2 linked regions of the Homo sapiens genome follow. The protein of the gene in region 1 interacts with the protein of each later gene in a biochemical or structural test. Each region holds a gene or a part of one and is shown on either strand. Other genes may lie near its edges.

Evidence for each region.
Region 2: the proteins of GPSM1 (region 1) and OSTM1 form a complex in vitro, tested with the Homo sapiens proteins (one study listed by BioGRID).

The regions. Positions count from the first base shown.
Region 1 is NC_000009.12:136,337,537-136,341,447, forward strand, and holds part of GPSM1 (G-protein-signaling modulator 1), read left to right. Parts: coding exon 1-28; intron 29-309; coding exon 310-425; intron 426-1,018; coding exon 1,019-1,174; intron 1,175-2,170; coding exon 2,171-2,279; intron 2,280-3,333; coding exon 3,334-3,457; coding exon of another isoform or gene 3,458-3,624; exon of another isoform or gene 3,625-3,911. UniProt on the Homo sapiens protein: Guanine nucleotide dissociation inhibitor (GDI) which functions as a receptor-independent activator of heterotrimeric G-protein signaling.
Region 2 is NC_000006.12:108,046,895-108,050,805, reverse strand, and holds part of OSTM1 (osteopetrosis-associated transmembrane protein 1 precursor), read left to right. Parts: intron 1-1,222; coding exon of another isoform or gene 1,223-1,274; intron 1,275-1,387; coding exon 1,388-1,553; intron 1,554-3,911. UniProt on the Homo sapiens protein: Required for osteoclast and melanocyte maturation and function.

The sequences.
Region 1 (3,911 bases):
CACAGAGGCCACGACCTTCCACAAGGAGGTGAGCCGGGCAGGGTGACAGGGTGGAGGGGCCGGGCTGCTGCAGGGGCAGGGCTGAGCCACCCTCTTGGCGGTCCCTGAAAGGGCAGGGTGGTATGGCCAGGCAGCAGGCCCGCCCCACCGAGTCCTGGCCTCATCTGCACTTGGTCCTGCAGCTGCTAGCTGCTCACCCGGACACACAGATCTCTGGCCGGCCACCTGGGCAGGGAGGCAGCCCCTGTCCGCCCACGTCAGGCCCCGGGGCTGCGCCATGACCACCTGGCCTCCGGTGTGTCTCCGCAGCGCCTGGCCATTGCTAAGGAGTTTGGAGACAAGGCAGCCGAGAGGAGGGCCTACAGCAACCTGGGGAACGCCCACGTCTTCCTGGGGCGCTTTGACGTGGCCGCCGAGTACTACAAGTAGGTGGTCCCCACAATCTCCCAGGGAGACAGCAGGCCGGGGGGGCTGGATGCCAGGCCAAGGAAGTGCCCGCCCCAAGCTGGGAATCTGACTGCCTCCCCTCCCCTCCCCAGAAGGCAAGGTGGGGTTCTAGGCTGCCCCGGGAAGGGCAGACGGACAAAGCTCATGGGGAGGCAGGCGGTGGGGGAGCCGGCCTATGGGAGGTCTGGGCCATCTGCCTCCTGGCCTGAGCCACAGAGCAGCGCCTGCCGGGTGGAGCCCGGCTGTCAGCACGGGGTCCTGTGCCCAGCCCTAAACTTAACCCCATCTCAGCCTGAGCAGTGGGCACAGCAGTCTCAGGTCCTCCGGGGAGGAGTGGTGGCGGCTCAGGGTGGTCAGGCAACTTGCCAGAGCCTGGCAGGACCCCCCGTCCCCCTGGGGCCAACAGTCCCGCTCTGTGGCCATGTGAGGGTGGGGATGAAGCTGGACCCCAGAGAGGCCCCAGTGGGATTCCGGGGCAGGGGACCATCGGGCAGACTGCGTCCCCATTCTTACCTTCCACCCCTCACCCTGGAGCCCTCCTCCTGGGGGCTGACCCTGCCACTCTGCACAGGAAGACGCTGCAACTGTCTCGGCAGCTCAGGGACCAGGCAGTGGAGGCGCAGGCCTGCTACAGTCTGGGCAACACCTACACGCTGCTGCAGGACTACGAGCGCGCGGCCGAGTACCACCTGCGGCACCTGCTCATTGCCCAGGAGCTGGCCGACAGGTGCGTGGGCGCGGACGCGGCGGGCAGACCCGGCCCGGCCCACAGGCTGAATTACCGCGGCCCAGGCGAGGTGGCCTGGGTCCCATCCCCTGCTCTGCCACTGACCATGCTGTGACCCAGGAGTGGCAACGCCACTGTGGGGACTGAGCCAGACAGTGTGGACATTGGGCCGGCCACTGACCCCTGGCACAAGCGGGTGGGGTCCCCCTCCCATCCCTCAATTCGCCACCCTGTTGCCCCCACCACCCATGTATGTATGTAAATATCACTCTCTGGAGAGAGACAGGCTGGCAAACCACAGGCCCCTAAGTACTGTCTTGTGTGCAGGTCTGGGGTGGGTGGTGGCCGGAACAAGGGGCTCAGAGCCACAGGCCTGTGGCCTTTCACAGGCAGCAGAGAGGAGAGGTCTTTTGAAAGGCTGCCCTGCCTGGAGGCTTAAAAGTGGCCCAAGGTTTTCCTTTGTGGCGTGGTGAGGAGAATGTTCTGGAATAGACAGAGGTGCCGGTTGCACAGCATGAATGTACAAAATGCCAGTGGATCGTCCACGTGAAAATGATCAAATTCCTGTTAGACGCATTTCCCTCCAATATAAAAACAACCCCCTCACCCAGTGACTTGGAGGGTGCCCGTAAGGGTGGAGGGAGTGCAAGGGAGGAGGCTTGCCGGCCGCCAGGGGGCGAGCGAGGCCAAGGGCCCAGAAACTGCCCGCAAAGGCAGAGCCGGCCACAGGCCAGGTTGCTTGGACTCTGCGCTAATCCTTTTAATGGGAAGAAAAAAGGCAGAGCTGATTGGGGCTTATGCTTGAAGGTGGCAGAATTTGTGGGAGGTCCAGCTGGGGGCATTATCCTGTCATCCGGCCAATGCCCCTTGGGCCTGGGGGCCCCTGATGACCCTCGAAGCCAGGGTCATGCTGGGGCCGTGACCACCAGGGGAGGGGCTGGGGCTGGGGGCTGGCCTGGAGAGGGCGGGTATGAATCTGGTCTCCCTCTCTGGCAGAGTGGGCGAGGGCCGGGCGTGCTGGAGCCTGGGAAATGCCTACGTGTCCATGGGGCGCCCAGCGCAGGCCCTGACCTTCGCCAAGAAGCACCTGCAGATCTCCCAGGAGGTGAGCCAGGCCTGCCCCCAGAAGTCCCGGGCACTGCCCAGCCCACTCCAGACGGGCCGGGTCCCCTCTGCCCCGAGCGAGCGTGTGCGTGCCTGGGCCCCCCTCATCCTTTCAGGGCCATTGCAGCTGCCTGGTCCTTCCGAGGCCTGGTGATGACATGTCTACCATGCCCGGGGGTTTTTCCTGCAGCCCCCAGCTGGTGCCTTCCTGGGCAGCTGCGTCTCCTCCTCCTTGGAGAGTTTGCACAGGGTCTCTGTGGGCTCCGCCCATCAGCGCCCTCCTACTGTGGTCAGGGCGGAACATCACAGATGAACTGTGGGCCTCCCGGCTCCCGGCCTGTCCTTACATCACCCACTCCCACGCCACCTCCCTCTGCACACCCCGAGCCTGTTCATGCTAAAGACGGTGCCAGCCCCTACTGACCACCATAGACCCATGTAGGAGGTGGCCGGGTGGGGAGGCCTGCAGGTGCCCAGGTGAGGGTGGAGAGGGGCGGGCATGGGAAGGTCAGCAGAGCCCTCGTCTGAAGAGCTTCACTGGCAGCCAGCAGGCAGCCCCCGTGTCCCTCTGAGTGCAGGCTACAGCCTCCAGGGCCTTCCAGGGCTCCATGTGGCCCTCCCCCCAACCCCATGCCACCTCTCTTCTGCTTGACTTAAGCAAACAGTTAGTTCCTGAGTGATGTGGATGTTCCCGGGAGGGTCCCCCACAGAGCCTCGGCGCACAAGGCAGGGGCTGAGAGAGGTGCAGCCGGGCGGGGCCGGGCCCCTCGCGCACCGGAGGGCACAGGCCCAACCGCCTGGGACCCCAAGCATCTCTGGGGTGAACTAGGGGCTGTTGAGGACCTGTGGGGCCACCTCACCCAGGGACAGACCCCCAGACTCCACCTCCGGGTCCACAGTGAGTCCTGGTTCCCTCAGAGGCCCAGGGGTCAGTGACCAGTTCAGGTCACTCAGAAGGTCAGGGACGGGTGTACTGGGGGCCATTAAGGTCCCCTTGGAGCCCACAGCAGGGCCCCCAGCCACACCTGCCCGCTCCGCCACCCCACTCGCCGCAGATCGGGGACCGCCATGGGGAGCTCACGGCCCGCATGAACGTGGCGCAGCTGCAGCTGGTGCTCGGCCGCCTGACCAGCCCGGCAGCCTCAGAGAAGCCTGACCTGGCCGGCTATGAGGCCCAGGGTGAGTTCCAGGGTTGTGGGGGGGTCTTGCTCCCCACAGGCACGGACCGCATCAGGAGCTGCGGAGGGGTGGGATCGAGGCCAGGCCAGCATGGCGGAGGTGGCAGCCGCCAGAAAATGGCGCCTACAAGCCAGTTCTTCTTGGCCTCAGGGACAGCACAGGCCTGAGGTTCACCCTGAGCCCTTCCCACCCGCATCCTGAGTGGCGCTGCAGGGCTGCTGGATGAAGGACAGGAGGTGGTCGCCTGTTGCCCCACTGGCTGCTCCAGGGCCTCCACCCCCACCTCCCCCTGGAGCCCTCGGTGCAGGGAGGGCTTCTGTCCTCAGACCCAAGTAGGAGAGGGCTGCTGGGAGGCGAGAGGGCATCAGCCAGAGGGCTGGGCTGGGCTGGGCTGGGCTGGGCTGTGGGAGCCCTATGTGCCTGGGGCAGTAATCAGGCAAGGCCCAAGGCCATG
Region 2 (3,911 bases), on another chromosome or scaffold:
TAGGTACTTCATAAGTGAGTTGATGCTTTGGTACATTTTAATCTTTTTAAATTTGAAAATATGTGCCATTTGCAGAGGTGTAGGTATTGTTATATGTTTATATTTCAGTTTCTTGTGCACTTGTTGCTAATTTAAGAAGTTTCTGAGCTGGGCACGGTGACTACACCTGTAATCCCAGTACTTTGGGAGGCTGAGGCGGGCAGATCACGAAGTCAGGAGTTCAAGACCAGCCTGACCAACATGGTGAAACCCCGTCTCTACTAAAAATAGAAAAATTAGCCGGGTGTAGTGGCACACGCCTGTTATCCCAGCTATTCAGGAGGCTGAGGCAGGAGAATCGCTTGAAACCGGGAGGGAGAGGTTGCAGTGAGCTGAGATCGTGCCAGTGCACTCCAGCCTGGGCGACAGAGCGAGACTCCGTCTCAAAAAAAAAAAAAAAAAAAAAAAGACGTTTCTGGATTTCACTACATGTTTCAGAAGCCATTCCTCAATCACTTCCTATTCCATTGTTTTATTTTCTTATATCTATTACCATCTGAAAATATTTATTTATTTATTTTTAGTCTGTCTTCCTCACTAAAATATAAGCCACATGAGGACAAGGACTTAGGCTTTTTTTGTTCACTATTCAGTATTTAGGACAGTATTTAGGACAGTCTAGCATATAATGGGCTTAATAAACATGTATTAATTGAATGGTCAAAAAAAATTTTTTTTTCTCCATTTTATAGCCTGCCTTTACATAGGGTGCCACTAGATGGCAATCATGCCTTTTTAGGCACTATGATGCTGGAGTTTTGGGGCATTAGAGGAAACTGAGAAATTATTGGCTCAAAGTAGAGAACTTGAGGTCAGAATTAATGAGCTTAAGAATTGAGAATGTGTGAATTATCACAGCAGCTCAGAGGGAACTATAAGAACCAATAATATTCGAGATGGTAAAAAGTACTTAAAATGAAATGTACAGTGTGGCTTTTTGTTTGTTTTTACTGCTCCATTCCTATTGCCTAAAACAGTACCTGGTTTCTAGTAGGCTCTCAATAAATAATAAATATTTTGTAAATGAATAAAACAGGGCCTAACTATATTCCTCTTCATATAAGTTCTTTGTTTGAATGTACAAATGGTTGACATTCTAGAATACTTTGGTCAGTATTATGGACTTAGAATATGAAATTTCTGTATGGATATAAATTTCTACAATGACTGTATTTTGAACCAGGTTTTTTTCCTGGCAGAAGAAGTTGTCCTCAACTATCAGTAGGTTTTTAGAGGTATGTATTGAGTCTAAATTCTAGATTCCTGTTTAGTTATTAGCAAAATAATTATAAGAAATTGAAGACAAGTTAAATATAAAATAGAAAGATATTGTTTGCTCTTGTTCCAGATGAACATCACTCGAAAACTATGGAGTCGAACTTTCAACTGTTCAGTCCCTTGCAGTGACACAGTGCCTGTAATTGCTGTTTCTGTGTTCATTCTCTTTCTACCTGTTGTCTTCTACCTTAGTAGCTTTCTTCACTCAGAGCAAAAGAAACGCAAACTCATTCTGCGTAAGTTTTTTACAATTATTTATTTTATAGATAAAAGCCTGTATTTTAAAAATTTAGGCCTGTTTTAGAAATGATAGCTACTCTGAGAACTCAAAGTAGATTAGCCTAAAAGGACTCTCTGCTTTAAGTTTTACAATCATGCTTACTAGTGAAAGAGATCTGTGAAAATTTTATAAGTGTGGACAATAAAAAGTTAAAACAGGGCTAGGTGCAGTGGCTCATGCCTGTAATCCCAGCACTTTGGGAGGATGAGGTGGGCGGATCACGAGGTCAGGAGATCGAGACCATCCTGGCTAACACGGTGAAACCCCATCTCTACTAAAAATGCAAAAAATTAGCCGGGCATGATGGCGCATGCCTGTAGTTCCAGCTACTCGGGAGGCTGAGGCAGGAGAATCATTTGAACTTGGGAGGCGGAGGTTGCAGTGAACCGAGATCGCACCACTGCACGCCAGCCTGGGAGACAGAGTGAGACTGTCTCAAAAAAAAAAAAAAAAAAAAAAGTTAAAACACAGTGTCTTTCAGATGATTAAATTGAGAAAGCTAGATTACCCCTGGAATAAGGTTGGCAACAACAGAAGAATAACAACAGAGGCTTTGCACTCCTAACATGGCAATAGCAGGGAGATACAGACAGCTCTTAGACCCATCGGAGTCATGGTAGAACCACCTAAGTGTGGCAGGCAGGAAGAAACTATAGCTGACATAACAGACAGTTTGTTTGTGAACAAATTGGAATCGTAGTTCCAAGGAGATTACTTGATATAATAGTATATGCTCAATACATATTAATTCCCTTTCTTTCTCCCTATGAAATAGGCCAGAGCAAAAGAAGCACTAACTAGAGATCCCATCCAGCTAAGGAAGAGTGGCTTCTAAGTCACGTGGCTTTCTTGTTTATTATCAGAATGAAAGTACAGGCTTATGCCTTAATAATTTTAGTTTTTAAAAAAGAGAACTGTTTAGGGGAAAAGGTTAATTTTCTTTTCTCTCAAATACTATTTGTAGTCTAGGAATGTCTGATATAAAAATTCTTTTCCCTATAAATTTCGATCACTACTTCATCTAACTTCACTTCTAATATATCTAATTTTTTTAAAAAAAGGTTACCTGTAGATCAGTTTGAACTGAATTTGTAATGTTTTGTCACCTTAAAATGCTAGCTACTAGAGGGGAGAGTCTTTGTCATGGGTGTATTTATTAAAGGTTTTTTGAAGGCTGCCAGCATTCTGTAAATATGCAGTAGCTCAGGTCCTTAAAGCACTTACTTAGAATAATAGCAAAATATTGTGGGCACCTCACCATTGAGAAACTATTTTTCAGAGCTTGGTATACTTTTAAAGTTTAGCATCTTATTTGCCTTGCTAATCTATTTAACTTTATGGAAAGTATTTACTGCTTCTGATCAGGATTTTTTGTTTGCTGTCAAAGTAAAAGTCACTACCAGTGTCACTATTTGCTATGGAAGCCACAAACCTTGTAGTCATTTCTTAATTATTTTCTTTCTTTTATTTTTCCATTCCCACATTCCCCTCTCATCCCCTTTTAATTCATTAGCAAGTATGCTGCCAGTTCTGCTTAGTCCGTCTCTCTCCCTCCACTGGTAAACCCTAGCCCAAACCATCTTCATCTCTTATCTGTACTAACGCAAGAGCCCCTTAACTGGTATCCCTCCTTCCATTTCTTGATCTACTAAAATCCATACGCCACATAGTGGCTAGAATAATTTTTTAAACACAAATTCACCATGTTTCTCTACTAACTTGGAATGCTTAATGTGTTCCCATTGTACCTAGAATAAATCCAAACTTACTTTCCAGGGTCTGCTCTCCAAGCTGTACATGACCTGGCCCATAGCCACCTTTCTAAACTCGTCACATCCATTCTCCTCATTGCTCATGGTGCTGTGGACAGTCTGGTTCCTTTCTGTTCTTCTCCACTACCAAGCTCATTCACACTGCCCCTTTTCCAAGGCCCTTCCCTCTTTACTTACCTGGCTTCTTGCAAGCCAGGTCTTAGCTCTAAAGTTACTTGCTCAAAGAGACCTTTTATGACTCCCCAGTCTAAGAATACACCTCTCCATTTGTTCTTCTGTGCCGTCTTTCTTTAATGGCACTTAATCACTTAAACTAATTTAAATTAAATAATTGGTTATTTAAATCATCTTTTTCATTTATTCTCTACTTTATTTGTTTGTCTTCCCTGCCTGAAGGGAGGAGCTAACTGCATTAGAGGTGTTGAAATTCACCGTTAGATGATCCCTGGGCTAGAATTTTAAAGGATGTGGGGATTTATCAGGTAGGGAATATAAAGGCAAGGAAGATGTAGGTGTATGTACTCATTCGTATTTAACTTGTC